Linked DNA regions of Homo sapiens. The protein of the gene in region 1 purifies or fractionates together with the protein of each later gene. This does not show direct contact. Each region holds a gene or a part of one and is shown on either strand. Other genes may lie near its edges.

Region 1 (3,932 bases):
ATTAACCACCAATAAGTACTGACCACAAACAAAGTTTTGCTAGTCTGAGGGTGGGTCAGAAAAAGGTATAAAATAGGGATAGAGAAATGGGTGTACATATAAAAAGATAAGCAAAAATAACACAATGATTCCAAATAATGCTCAAGACTCACTAATTTCATATAAAAAATGAACCCAATGCAAATAAGTAATCTTATTTTTCAATCTATCTTTTATTTGGCATTTTAAAAAATGACTCTCAAACCAAAAGAAAAGGCCAATGTAGAAGCTTACCTGTTGACTGGCTGGTGCCATCAAACAGATCAACAAGGTCACCAGATGACTTGCTGCTAGGCACTGAAGTCTGAAAACACACACATAACTCAGGAGCTTCGAAAAGTTTGTTTTTCTAAAAATCAGCTCTATCCATCTCTAATTCTCAATTTAGACATAAATACCTGTAATTAGCTTAATAAGGGTAGGGTTTTCTGGAAAAAGAGTACTGACCTTGAATCCTTATGGAGAGGCAGCAAGCACTTTTAAGTACCTCCATTCCCAGCAGTGTAAAAGTCTCTTAACATTGACACTTTTTTTCCTACCTCACTTTTCTGACTGCATTTCACTCTGGAAAATATTAACTGCCAGATCCCACTTGAATCTTAATGCTAAGTATCAGTTCATTAAAAAAAAAAAAAAAAAAAAATACCCTAGCATATGTACCAGTCCCATACAATACACTGAGTCATAATTGCCCAGGTATAAAAAGGCCAAGACCTTGGCCTGTTAAAGTCTTACAAGAAAGCTCCCTAGATAATTCCAAGGCTTGAGATCCACTGGATTAGAGGTCAAGATCCTAAACAGCTCTAAATTTCTATGAACCTTAGCAAAACTTATTGTTTGTATATCACACAAGTTAGTATAATTCTATGTTATTTGATATATTGATATGTTTCATATTTAGTTCCCCAACTAAACTGAGGCCTATACCTGTAATACTATTTTTATCTTCTCCACAAAGCTAAGCACCCTGATACCTAAATACCTATGTCCTATATGTTAGATATATACATGCTAAATTAGAACTCAATTATTAGGCAATGGGGAAACCCTAAGATCCTAGGCATGTTGATTTGAACTTTGAAAACTAAAATACTATATACTGTGATTCCAAAACACCTTTAAGAACAGATCCAAATGAGTTGGGTAACTTTCTAAGAACTTCAACCTTCTAGACATTTTTTTTGAGGGGAGGAGGGTAAATGAAAACAAAAAAGAAAAAGCTTGTACTGCCGGGCGCGGTGGCTCAAGCCTGTAATCCCAACACTTTGGGAGGCCGAAGCAGGTGGATCACTTGAGGTCGGGAGTTCGAGACTAGCCTGACCAACATGGAGAAAGCCCGTCTCTACTAAAAATACAAAAAAATTAGCCGGGCATGGTGGTGCATGCCTGTAATCTCAGCTACTCGGGAGGCTGAGGCAGGAGAATCACTTGAACCTGGGAAGCAGAGGTTGCGGTGAGCCAAGATCGCGCCATTGCACTCTAGCCTGGGCAACAAGAGCGAAACTCGGTCTTCCAAAAAAAGAAAAAGAAAAAGAAAAAGCTTGTACTACAAATATAAAATATTTATTGCAGAGTGTCATATATTCAGGCTATACTACAAACTGTTATTTAAAATCCTTTAAGATATGTGATAAAAGTCTCTATTATTAAAAAAATTATACAGATATTTGGCAAAAGCTGACATGGTATTTGTTATTGCAACTAAGCAGGCCTGGTTTTATTTTCAGAGTCACCTACAATCTGCTGCATACATTAGAAAACTGTTTTTCCCAGCTTTTAGCTATTTCTCTTGCAAAGACACAAACTGGGGAAACAGTAGTCGGGGAAAGTGACAAAAACAATAATTTAGTCTTTTGAGGCAAATCTCCCTATTTGGCAGATTTCTGTTGAAAAGACTAGGGTTTGGCCAGGTACCTAGCAGGTGGATTTCATCTCTATGGTAAATAAAAACAAACGAAGATGGTACAAGAGGCAGTGCTTCTTTTGATACTGATCAGTAATGACTGTGAGGCAAACACGCCTCCCTTTATAGGCAACGTTTCTACATTACATGAGATAACTTGCCCCTATATATCTCTTCTTACTCCCTCGTTTGTCATTTCTTAAAACTTTCAAATACTTCCAATGTTTTCTTTAGTGAATCTACTTGTGGTTGGTAACCAGTATTGTCTAGATGGGGACAGAGGCACTACATTCTGATTCACAACCTTCCCCAAACAAACCAAAAGTGTCATTTCTACTTTCATAGAAAGTACCCAATCATTCAGCAATTGGACAGGTTTCTCCCCTCAAAGAGATTTCTTATTATTAATGTCTCTTGGTAATACATGCCAGATGATCCATAATTAATATGATTGCCTAGAAATGCCCAAGCCTACTAATGCAGGAATTCGAAGAGCGGTTTATAAAAATAAAACCATGTATAATGTGTAAACTACTGCCATTCCCACCTTAACTGAAGACTGAGGTGTGTGGGTTGAAGCATTCTGATCTGGACTTGCTTTGTCCCCTGTGTAATGTGCTGCTGCTCCAAGATCAATGGTTTTGGAAGGATTTGCTGTGCGCTTGTGTCTGGTTGTGGTGGTCTCTGTGGCCTGTGTGATATGAATATGCTTTGTCGTCACAGTCTCCTCTTCATCTTTGAATTCACCTTTGGGAGATCTGCCTCTTCTCGCTTTCTTTTCCTCATCGCTGTCGCTAAAAGATATTAAAAATGAAGCAAAATAATAAGACGGGATTATTTTAAAATGGGTCCCTCAGTGATTTGAGCTAAAGAATTTCAAATACAGTAACTCCAAAATTTCATACTTTGACTACTTGACAGGGATCAACAGAATGTTATCTAAGCTGTCTGAATAATGATATATGTGCGCTGGGGAGGGGAAGTGGAAACACAGAGAATATCCTATATAAGTCTAAAATACTGCTACAAAAAAGTATTTACATAAATGTGTATAAATAAAAAATGTCAAAATAACTCGTTTTTATTACAGATTTAAGCTTAACTTAAAAATAAAATAGGATTTGATATCAGAATCCATGATAAGACCCTGAGAGTTCAAACACTTGCATGTGATGATTATTTTCTTGACATGGACTGTGTGCAAATTACTATAGTTCCACTTTTACAACACAATTCTGCATCAACTCTCAAAGACTAATGTGTGTACATAATAAAATAATAAAAGTTCAATGGATGCTAAAAAAATCACACATCTTAATTCGAATAATTAAACTCATCTGTAAATGCATGAAAATATAAGGGAATGCACTTTACAACTGTGCTATTTTACTATAGTATCAGGAGATCAAACTTTTATATAACTATAGAAAATGCTTTCTAGAAAACAACTGTATTTAAAATATTTTAAAGATAATTCTCCTTCAGCCACATTCAACAATTTTTTCTTTCCTTTTTCTTTAATAGTGAAAAAGATTTTAAAAACTAAACAGTAAAAGCCTGGGTTTTTCATATGCTAGGAATGAAAATATCAGCCCTAGTCTGTTCTCTAGTAACAAGTCATTGGGTTTTTTTCTGATGTAAGTAGGAGAGAGAGAGAGAGAGAGAGAGAGAGCGAAAGAGAGAGAAAGAGAGAAATGTTACTTGAAACATGTTCCATTACCTGTATTACTTAATTTTAGAGTAGGTGGTTTAATTTATAAATATTCTGGAATATAATGTTTAAAATTCTCCTTTAAACTGCTGATGCAATTTACCTCAGACTGAACTATAGCAACTTGTACTTAAATATAAACCAATCTGGAACTTGTATAAATCAAAGATCAAAAAGAATGACTTCCCACACAGAGCAAAGGGGTTAAATATATTTTTATATATAAACATTTTAAGGAACCTACAAGTTCTGATACGCATTCAAAAGCCCTTACTAACT
Region 2 (2,373 bases), on another chromosome or scaffold:
TGACCCCACCCACTGCCAGAGAGCGAGGCGGCAGCACTGCACTAGAGGGGCGGCAGCAACTGTGCAGCTAGGATCCCCTCACAAACACACTGAGTAAGAAAGAGAAATAAGAATGTGCCCCCCATGAGCTGGGGTCTGGGGGGGGCTGAGAAATGAGGAGGAAGCAGGGGGCACACTTGCTGACACCTAGGGTGAGGGCTGAGCTAGGCCTGTACCCTCCCTACAATGGGAGAGCGCTGGGGGCGTCTCAGAGGGATGGCCCTCAAGCTTCCCAGATGAGCCACGAGGCCCCAGGCCCAGCTGTCCACCAGGAAAGGACTGTGCTTCTTGTCCGCGCCCTCATTCTCCCAGCACTGCTGTGTGGTGTCAGCTGAGCACCAGCTCAAGCTGACAATCAGCTCACACCCCCATGCCACTGACTGGGAAACCCCTTGCCAGCCCCCTCCTCTCCTTGAACTCTCCCCATGACAGGCGTCTCATCTGCCCCAGCAGGAATAGGTGGGTGGCAGCAGAGAAGGTGCTCCAGCAGCCACCACCTCCCAGGGCCAGTGGAGTCTGGGAACCCTGGGCCAAGGCTGTGCAGCCACAGTGTGGACCAACGTGATAGTGGCTGCTAACTCCATCATCCGCAACAGAAAGGGAATGTGCGCCTCAAAGTCCTGGGGGATCCCCACAAGCACTTTGACCCCCACAGCAATGACACTCCCTAGGGCCTGGTGAGCCTGAGTTCCTCTGACACTAACCCACGGGCCTCTACTGCCAGGAAGAGATTCAAGCACTTTCTTTCCTTGTGCTGGTTCTCAGAACACAGACTACTTTCAGGAAAGACACCCGAGGGATGGGAAAACCTGCTCATCATGGTGACAGCAGCTTCCACAGGCACGCACCAGACACCGCACACCACACACTGCATACCACAAACCACATACCACACGTGCCGCCTGTAGGGAGTTGCCATCCACTGTGGTGGGGGAACCAGGGCCCTTGTCAATCCAACCAGTCCATGTCCCCTGGCAGCCCACGAATCTCAGGCCACGTAGCCAGGGCTGTCCCTTCCTCCCCAACCCTTGAGAGTCATCAGGGAGTCTCACTCAGGCATGCTATGCAGATGGGATGGGGTCACACTGTCCTACAGGAGGGCAACGGCCTTGAATGGACTCTGGGATGGCCTTTATCAGGGGCTGGGCAGCCCCCTGGAGGCTCTGCAGGCGGCAGGCAGCCCTCCAGGCTAAAGCTGGCAGCATGAGCCCGCCTTCCTGTTTCCTTCCTACCTCCCACTCACCTGGGAGGCCCCTCCCTTCCCTCGCTCCACTGAGTGATGCTTCAGCATGAGTGCCTTCCGAGGCTCTCCATCTGGCTTGAAGGAGGTTAGATAGGCAAGTAGATGCTACTGGAAGTAGCTTTTCCAGTGTTAGAAACAACAAACTGTACCAGATGACACTGCTGACACAGGTCTCTGGACAGTGGCTAAAGCTAGATCCCAGCAGGGACTCCTAGGACTTCAACACCCAGGGAGAGTTTTACAATCAAGTACTGTCACTTCGATGAGGCAGAGAGTCATCCTCCCTATAGCTGTTAGAAGGATTCAGTGGATCTGTGAATACTCCTACTATGTGTTCAGCAAAAGGCAGCTACCACCAACCGTATGCTAACAGCTGCACCCCCAGACGCCACTGGGAGCTCCTCAGGGAGCTGGGATTGCCAGCCACCTCACTGTCACCTTGTTGAAGTCCAGGGCTGGGGATGAGCACGCCTGTTGTGCTCCTAGCAGTGTGCACATTGGGACAGCTGCCCAGCCAGAGTCTACAGGAGGGCTGCTGCCAGTGGGCACTCCCCATGATGATTTTCTGGAGGGGCTTAACGTTGGGCAGAAAACCACTTCAGCATGAAGGAAAGCAGCCACTCCTGAAGGCAGCCAGGGCTGGCTGGGGAATCTGGGTTGGCCTCAAAGGGGCCCACCCTTAAGACCTGCGGCCAGAGTCACTGCCAGGGTTGGGTCATGCCACACAGGGGCCGGGGAGCTGCAGCCGGCCCGGCACCTACCTTGCTCAGGTACTCCCTCATCACCTGGATGAAGTAGGGCATGGCCAAGTCCACGAGGTTGTGCCTCCAGGCCAGCTCAAGCACCATGTCTGGGCGAAGCAGGTCATAGCAGGTGAAGAGACAAGCTGCGAAGCACTCCCTCTTGCCTTCCTCCAGGAACCACTGCAGCAACTTCTGGGCCAGCTCAGCATCCCGCGACTCTGCAGCATGCTGCATGGCATCCTGCAGCCAAGGCAAATGCTTGCTTGGGCATCCTGCAGGCAGAGGCTTTGTGCCTGCAGCAGCTGGGCCGGAGGGCAGGGAGTGGCACTAGACTCCACCAAGGACTTC
Region 3 (3,500 bases), on another chromosome or scaffold:
GAAATAGATTCAAATGATCTTTTGGAGTCACAAACCTGATCATGCCATCTCATAGCCCTCCCCATTAAAACACTTCAATGGCCGGGCACGGTGGCTCAAGCCTGTAAGCCCAGCACTTTGGGAGGCCGAGGTAGGCGGATCACCTGAGGTCAGGAGTTCAAGACCAGCCTGGCGAGCATGGTGAAACCTCGTCTCTACTAAAAATACAAAAATTAGCTGGGCGTGGTGGGCACCTGTAGACCTAGCCACTCAGGAGGCTGAAGCAGAAGAATCACTTGAACCCAGGGAGGTGGAGGTTGCAGTGAGCAGAGATTGTGCCACTGCACTCCAGCCTGGGCAACAAGCCAGACTCCCTCTCAAAAAAACAAACAAACAAAACAAACAAACAAACAATCCAAACATCAAAGGCTTCCCAATCCTTTTATCATAAGGACCTGAATCCTTATGATGGCCTATAAGGTCTTCTATGATCTGCAGCCTAATAACCTCTCTTGTCATTTATTCACCTTTGTATTCTCAGCACCTTGCACAGTACTTGGCAAATAGGAGTTCAATAAACATCTGTCAAGCTGAAATGAACTAGAAGAGTGACTTCTTAAATAGCACTGAAGCTCTTAGAGCCTCAATTTCATTACCTGTAAAAGAGTAGTAAATAGTTCAATTATCTGTACATTCTTTTCTTATTCTAAAGTTCTACAACTTTTACATGTTCTAGGGTAGAACTACCAAAACAAATTGAAAAATGATTAATACATCAGGTTTTGATTTTCTCATTCCCTAAATCTTACTGACTTCCTCTAAAAGCCAGCAGATCCATTTTTTTTCCCTAAGGAGGGGAGAGTTGTTTACAACTGTCTTGCCTATCTTTCATAATTGTAATAATTGTATCACCTGTGAGAATGCTCCCTCTGCTGGGCCTGACCTGTGAAGGATCTAGATCATAGCCCCATCACAGAATCTCCCAGGGCTCCCGCAATCTCTTTCCCCACGAAGAATGGCCTCTGTGCTTTAGTGTATCTCTTTCTCCAGCCTTTATATCCCAGACTTAGTATGAGATTCCGATATGTCCAACAAATATTCCTGATCCCTAAAACTTATTTCAGCTTTGCATACCTGGGGACAATTCCTGTGTCTCAAACTTTCCAAGGACAGCCCATCTCTAAAGCTAGTTCATATTAACCTGAAGCCCAGAGATGGCTGCTGGTACCATCCTTCTCTCAGGCAGCATCGGAATCATTTTAGGTGTCTGTTCTCTCATTCTCTATGTTCTATCAGTCATCCTACATCTATTCATTTTCCTCCATCTTTGTTTTTACCCTCCTGATAAGCTTCAATTTTAGAACAAACTCCTGACTGGTCTTACTGCATCAAGACCCTCCTCTCCTCATCCACTACTATCAGGCAAACTTTCAAAAACACTGGCTTTATTCTTGTCCCATATAAATACCTTTATTTGTAATTTTTCTATAAGGCAAAGGCCAAACTCTCCAATTTGGCACCTAAAGCATTCCATTTTCTGGCCTCCCTTTATCCAGATCTTCCACTATTTCTCAGTATAAACCTACTCTTGCTAACTTACTGTCTTCCAAATATAAACCATTCATTATCATCTCTGTTGGGGCCAACAGTGACTTTACTGTTGCTAAATCCAGCATTTGTTTCTCAGTCCTCATGTTTTTAGGTCTGGGCAGCACTGACTTAGCTGGTCACTCTCTCCTCTTCGAAGCACTTTACTTGGCTCCCAGGCCACCACACTCCCCTGGTTTTCTTCCTACCTCACCTCACTGTTTGCATTCATCTTATCTTCTGACTTTTAAATATTTAGTCTCCCCAAGGTTCAGTCTCTGGGCCTCTCTCTGTCTTTTAAATTTACATTCACTTCCTTGGTATGTTGTCCAGTTTCAGGACTTTATATGTTTTACTCAACTGAACTCCAGAGTCCTATATTAAATTACCTAACTTAGCCTCGCCACTTCAATGTCTTAAAGAATCTTAAATTTAACAGGTCTAAAACCAAGTTCCTACCCTCCACCCCCAAGCCCATCTCCCAACAAAACATGCTCCATTCACTGTTTTCCTTGTCAGGTGAGGCCAATTTCTTACTTAGCTGAGGCCAAAAACCTGGAGAGAGCCTTAACTCCTCTCTCTCACATCACACTGAATCCATCAGCAAGTCCTATAGCTCTGCCTTCAACTGTCTGTAAATCTTGATCATTTTTCACCACTTTCACTGGTCACCATCACCTTTCACTTTCTTTACGTGGCTTTCAGAAGACAATAACCCCATAACCAGCCACCTGACTTCTTGCTTCTACTGCATCCCTTACAATCTATTCCTAATAAAGCAGTGAAAGTAGTACTGAAAAAAAAATGGAAGCCCGATGTCACACCTCTGCTCCAAGCCCTCCAGTGGTTCCTTATCTCCCACAGAACAAAAGCCATCCTCTCCCAGATGGCCCGCAGGATCTGGCTTCCCATTCTTTTCCGAAGACCACCTACACTGCATCTCCTACCATTTTCTTCTTTTTCACTCAGCTCCAGCCACAGTGGCCTCCAGGAGAAGGAGAGGCCTTATCCCATCACCCACTACATACACACACAGGCACACACACACCCCAGAATATTTTCATTTTTGATCCCTCTTCCTAGAAATGTTTATCTAGAGGTCTGCATAGCTTGTGCCCTCACCTCCTTTAAATCTTTTCTCAAATGATGCCTTCTCCAAGAGGCCTTCCTTCACCACTTATTTATTTACTTACTTACTTAATTTATTTTTATTTTATTTTTATTTGAGACGGAGTTTCGCTCTTGTTGCCCAGGCTGGAGTGCAATGGCGCGATCTCAGCTCACCGCAACCTCCGCCTCCCGGGTTCAAGCCATTCTCCCGCCTCAGCCTCCCGAGTAGCTGGGATTACAGTCATGCGCCACCACACCCGGCTAGTTTTGTATTTTTAGTAGAGATGGGGTTTCTCCATGTTGGTCAGGCTGGTCTCGAACTCCTGACCTCAGGTGATCCGCGCCTCGACCTCCCAAAGTGCTGGGATTACAGGTGTGAGCCACCGTGCCCGGCCTTAGTTAATTTATTTTTTGAGACAGGGTCTTGCTCTGCCACCCAGGCAGTGTAGTGGCATGATCACAGCTCACTGCAGCCTTGACTTCCTGGGCTCAAGCAATCTTCCCACCTCAGCCTCCCAAGTAGCTGGGACTACAGGCACGCACCACCATGTTCAGCTAATTTTATTTTTAAAAAATTATCTGTAGAGACAGGGTCTCATTATGTTGCCCAGGCTGGTCTCGAATTCTTGGGCTCAAATAATGCTTCCACCGTGGCCTCCCAAAGTCCTGGGATTATAGGCATGAGCCACGGGTAGTGTCTACAACAGTACCTGGCACATAGTAAGATCTCAGTAAATAAATATTGGGTGAGTGGATCTCTACACCTTTGTTCACGCTATCTTCTTCACTGGAAATGTCTAAATTCTACGCATCTTTCAGAACAT
Region 4 (3,500 bases), on another chromosome or scaffold:
GACTATTGAGAGTGAAACAGTGAGACACTCAGCTGTGCTCCCAAAGCACAAAATGGGTCGCTGATTAGGGGGGTAGAAAGGAGTATGGGAAGGGACTTGAAAAACCTATAAAAGGCCAGGTGTGGTGGCTCACACCTGTAATCCTAGCACTTTGGGAGGCTGAGGCAGGCGGATCATAAGGTCAGGAGTTCGAGACCAGCCTGACCAACATGGTGAAACCCCGTCTCTACTAAAAACGCAAAAATTAGCTGGGCATGTTGGTGTGTACCTGTAATCCCAGCTACTCAGGAGGCTGAGGCAGGAGAATCACTTGAACCCAGGAGGTGGAGGTTGCAGTGAGCCGAGATTGCGCCACTGCACTTCAGCCTGGGCGACAGAGCGAGACTCCATGTCAAAACAAAACAAAACAAACAAACAAAAACAACCTATAAAAACAGATTCAACTACAGCTTTACCTTTGTGTTGCTAAAATCATAGGTCATTGGCACCTCCCTCAGTGTCTAGCAATGGAATATAGCAGTTACTATTTTAATGGCCTATCAAAGCAAGTGGTAAGCTCGCTGTTTAACAGAAGGAGCCCATGATCACTGTCTCTGAACTGGCTCTTTGCTAATGTTAATTAGCTTTACCTCCAGGGTAACTAATTTGTTGATGATGTACCATTTCCAGAAAAATTACAGTTAAACCTTAATAGTTTTATATCCTGATTGGACTTTTTATGTTGGTAGCATGGTCTTCTTTGTGTTGAATTGCTTTTTAAAAACTTTATTTTGGAAGGTAAAAGATACACAAACTAGAATAGTATAATGGGCCCCTTTCATACTCACCACCCAATTTCTGTGATTATCAATATTCTGCCATTCTTGTTTCATCTCTACCCTCCACACCTTTTTTTTTTTTAATTTTGAGATGGAGTCTTGCTCCGTCGCCCAGGCTGGAGTGCAGTGGCATGATCTTGGCTCACTGCAACCTCTGCCTCCTGAGTTCAAGTGATTCTCCTATCTCAGCCTCCCGAGTAGCTGGGATTACAAGCACCCGCCACCATGCCCGGCTAATTTTTGTATTTTTAGTAGAGATGGGGTTTTGCCATGTTGGCCAGGCTGGTCTTGAACTCCTGACCTCAGGTGATCACCCGTCTTGGCCTCCCAAAGTGCTGGGATTACAGGTGTGAGCCACTACGCCTATGCCCGGCCCAGATTACTTTTTTTTTTTTTTTTTTTTGAGACAAAGTCTTGCTCTTGTCCCCCAGGCTGGAGTGCGATGGCACAATCTCGGCAAACTGCAACCTCTGCCTCCCGGGTTCCAGCGATTCTCCTGCCTCAGCCACCCCCCGACCCAATTACTTTTTCTAAACTAGTACTTCAGGCACCTGTGTGCTTGATAGTGTAATGAGGTTGTCTATTGCCCCAGGCCAAGGGTTCCCGCCCGGACTTTACCGCAGATTGGAATCACTTGGAGAGCTTTTAAAGCTCCCCACGCACGCCCAGGACAAACCCCATACCAGTTGAGTCAGAATGCTGAGGTTGGGACCAGGCATTGTTATTTTTTTAAAGATTCCCCAGTGATTCCAACTTGTTTCAGAACTATTGCTCTTTAGGGCTAAAATAACAACACAAGGACTGGAGTCAGGACACCTGGGAGTTTGTGCTAGCTGTGTGCATTTCTCATAACCTCTTTAGGGCCACTCTCTGTGTGTAAAAGTGTTCTCTATGGCTCTGAAATTCTCCTTTAAGTCTAACCTTGTTAGACTGGTGTTCAAGGCTCTGCAGAAACTAGCTTCTACTCATCTCTACCATTTTATACTTAACAGGCTTCCAGGGCCACCACGCAGCCAAATGTGCCGGGCACGTTTCCTTCCATTCATCTTTGCTCGCCCTGTCTTTCACTAAGTCTAGAATGTGCTCCTCCCTCCTGTCTGAATAAGAGACCTGCTTTAACTTCGTGGTCATCCAGATGTAACCTCATGGACCCTCTCCATCTGAGTGCCTTGGTCAGCAGTAATCTCTTCCACCTCTGAACTCCAGACGTACTTACCACTTAGATCCCACATTTGGCAGGAGGCAAAACTTACCATATGTGGATGATTTTTATATGTATGGTCTGGACCCCAGAGCCAGACCTAGGCTCCTCTTTTCATGATAATATGGAGGAAAAAAAAGTGAAATGTGGCAAAGTTTGGACCAGGACCCAATTTTCCTTATTAGCCTCCTGTTTTCTTAATTCTGTGTTTTCTTGTATCACTGCTATTTTTCCCTACACACACAAATACATGAATATATATATATGAATGATATACATGTGACATATACGAATATATAGTATATATGATATAAACGATAGGTATGTGATATATATGAATATATGTATCAGTGATATATATGATATATGTGAATGTGTGTGATATATATATGATATATACATGAATGGTGCTGCTTTACAGTATAGTGGTTAGTGGTTCAGGATCCTCTCTCAGGATCCTTATGAAGTTTACAGTGTAAAGCTCTTAGTATAGGACCTGGCTCAGGTCAGGTACTCAGCTGTTACTATTGCTATAATTATTCTAGTAAGATTCCTAAGGGAATTGATGGGCGCATTTTCCTTCATTTAAAAAAAAACACTTATCAAGTTCCCTCAGTGTTCAAATGATATGTGGGAATTGAAAGGTTTTAAAAAATATATTGTTTACTCAAGCAAAAATTAGGACATTAGGGGCAACAGGAGTTTCTGATATTTTGTGATGGACTGGTCCTGGAAGATAATGCTGGTCATGTTAGTCCACAGAGTCTCTGCTTTTTAGGAGCAGACTGTCTGATAGGAGAAATGAAATGTGTATGCATGCTTAAGTATTTTCGTTTTTTTGTTCGTTTGTTTTTTTGAGATGGAGTCTCACAGTGTCGCCGGGCTGGAGTGCAATGGTGTGATCTCAGCTCACTGCAACCTTCGCCTCCTGGGTTCAAGCGATTCTCCTGCCTCAGCCTCCCAAGTAGCTGGGATTACAGGCACCCGCCACCATGCCTGGCTAATTTTTTGTATTTTTAGTTGAGACGGGGTTTCACTATGTTGGCCAGGCTGGTCTCGAACTTCTGACCTCATGATCTGCCCGCCTCGGCCTCCCAAAGTGCTGGGATTACAAGCGTGAGCCACCGCATCCGGTCTGCTTAAGTATTTTCTATATGATAGAAAGTAAAAATGCTCTGAGAGAAGCAAAACATAAGGGGCTATTGGGAGTTCACCGTGAACCCTTCAAAGCCTCCAACGCTGCTGAATGACAACTAGAAGCTTATTAAATGTTTTGAGAGAATTCTGGCAAGCTCAGATGTCAGGTGGGTGTGTGGCCTTTGTCCCCGGAGCATTTGGTTTTAGGCTAGACAATACTTGCTGTTCCTGCACCCTAGAGCCGCCCCCAGGCATCTGCAAGCCCAGCTTCTTCACCTTGCCTCGGTGTCACCTGATCCTAAGTAGCAGCTCCTTATCACTCTCTGTCCCTTTATCCTGCTGCG

What was found. Proteins that work in one complex are often made in the same cells at the same time.
Region 2: the proteins of CLINT1 (region 1) and CLTCL1 purify together in Homo sapiens (affinity purification with mass spectrometry; 2 studies listed by BioGRID and IntAct, with this or other methods). This does not show direct contact.
Region 3: the proteins of CLINT1 (region 1) and LOXL3 purify together in Homo sapiens (affinity purification with mass spectrometry; 2 studies listed by BioGRID and IntAct, with this or other methods). This does not show direct contact.
Region 4: the proteins of CLINT1 (region 1) and STX8 purify together in Homo sapiens (co-immunoprecipitation; 3 studies listed by BioGRID and IntAct, with this or other methods). This does not show direct contact.

The regions. Positions count from the first base shown.
Region 1 is NC_000005.10:157,803,377-157,807,308, forward strand, and holds part of CLINT1 (clathrin interactor 1), read right to left. Parts: intron 2,737-3,932; coding exon 2,490-2,736; intron 344-2,489; coding exon 274-343; intron 1-273. UniProt on the Homo sapiens protein: Binds to membranes enriched in phosphatidylinositol 4,5-bisphosphate (PtdIns(4,5)P2). May have a role in transport via clathrin-coated vesicles from the trans-Golgi network to endosomes. Stimulates clathrin assembly.
Region 2 is NC_000022.11:19,181,347-19,183,719, forward strand, and holds part of CLTCL1 (clathrin heavy chain 2), read right to left. Parts: intron 2,266-2,373; coding exon 2,044-2,265; intron 1-2,043. UniProt on the Homo sapiens protein: Clathrin is the major protein of the polyhedral coat of coated pits and vesicles. Two different adapter protein complexes link the clathrin lattice either to the plasma membrane or to the trans-Golgi network.
Region 3 is NC_000002.12:74,543,943-74,547,442, forward strand, and holds part of LOXL3 (lysyl oxidase homolog 3 isoform 1 precursor), read right to left. Parts: intron 1-3,500. UniProt on the Homo sapiens protein: Protein-lysine 6-oxidase that mediates the oxidation of peptidyl lysine residues to allysine in target proteins.
Region 4 is NC_000017.11:9,569,321-9,572,820, reverse strand, and holds part of STX8 (syntaxin-8), read left to right. Parts: intron 1-2,883; exon of another isoform or gene 2,884-3,265; coding exon of another isoform or gene 3,266-3,323; intron 3,324-3,500. UniProt on the Homo sapiens protein: Vesicle trafficking protein that functions in the early secretory pathway, possibly by mediating retrograde transport from cis-Golgi membranes to the ER.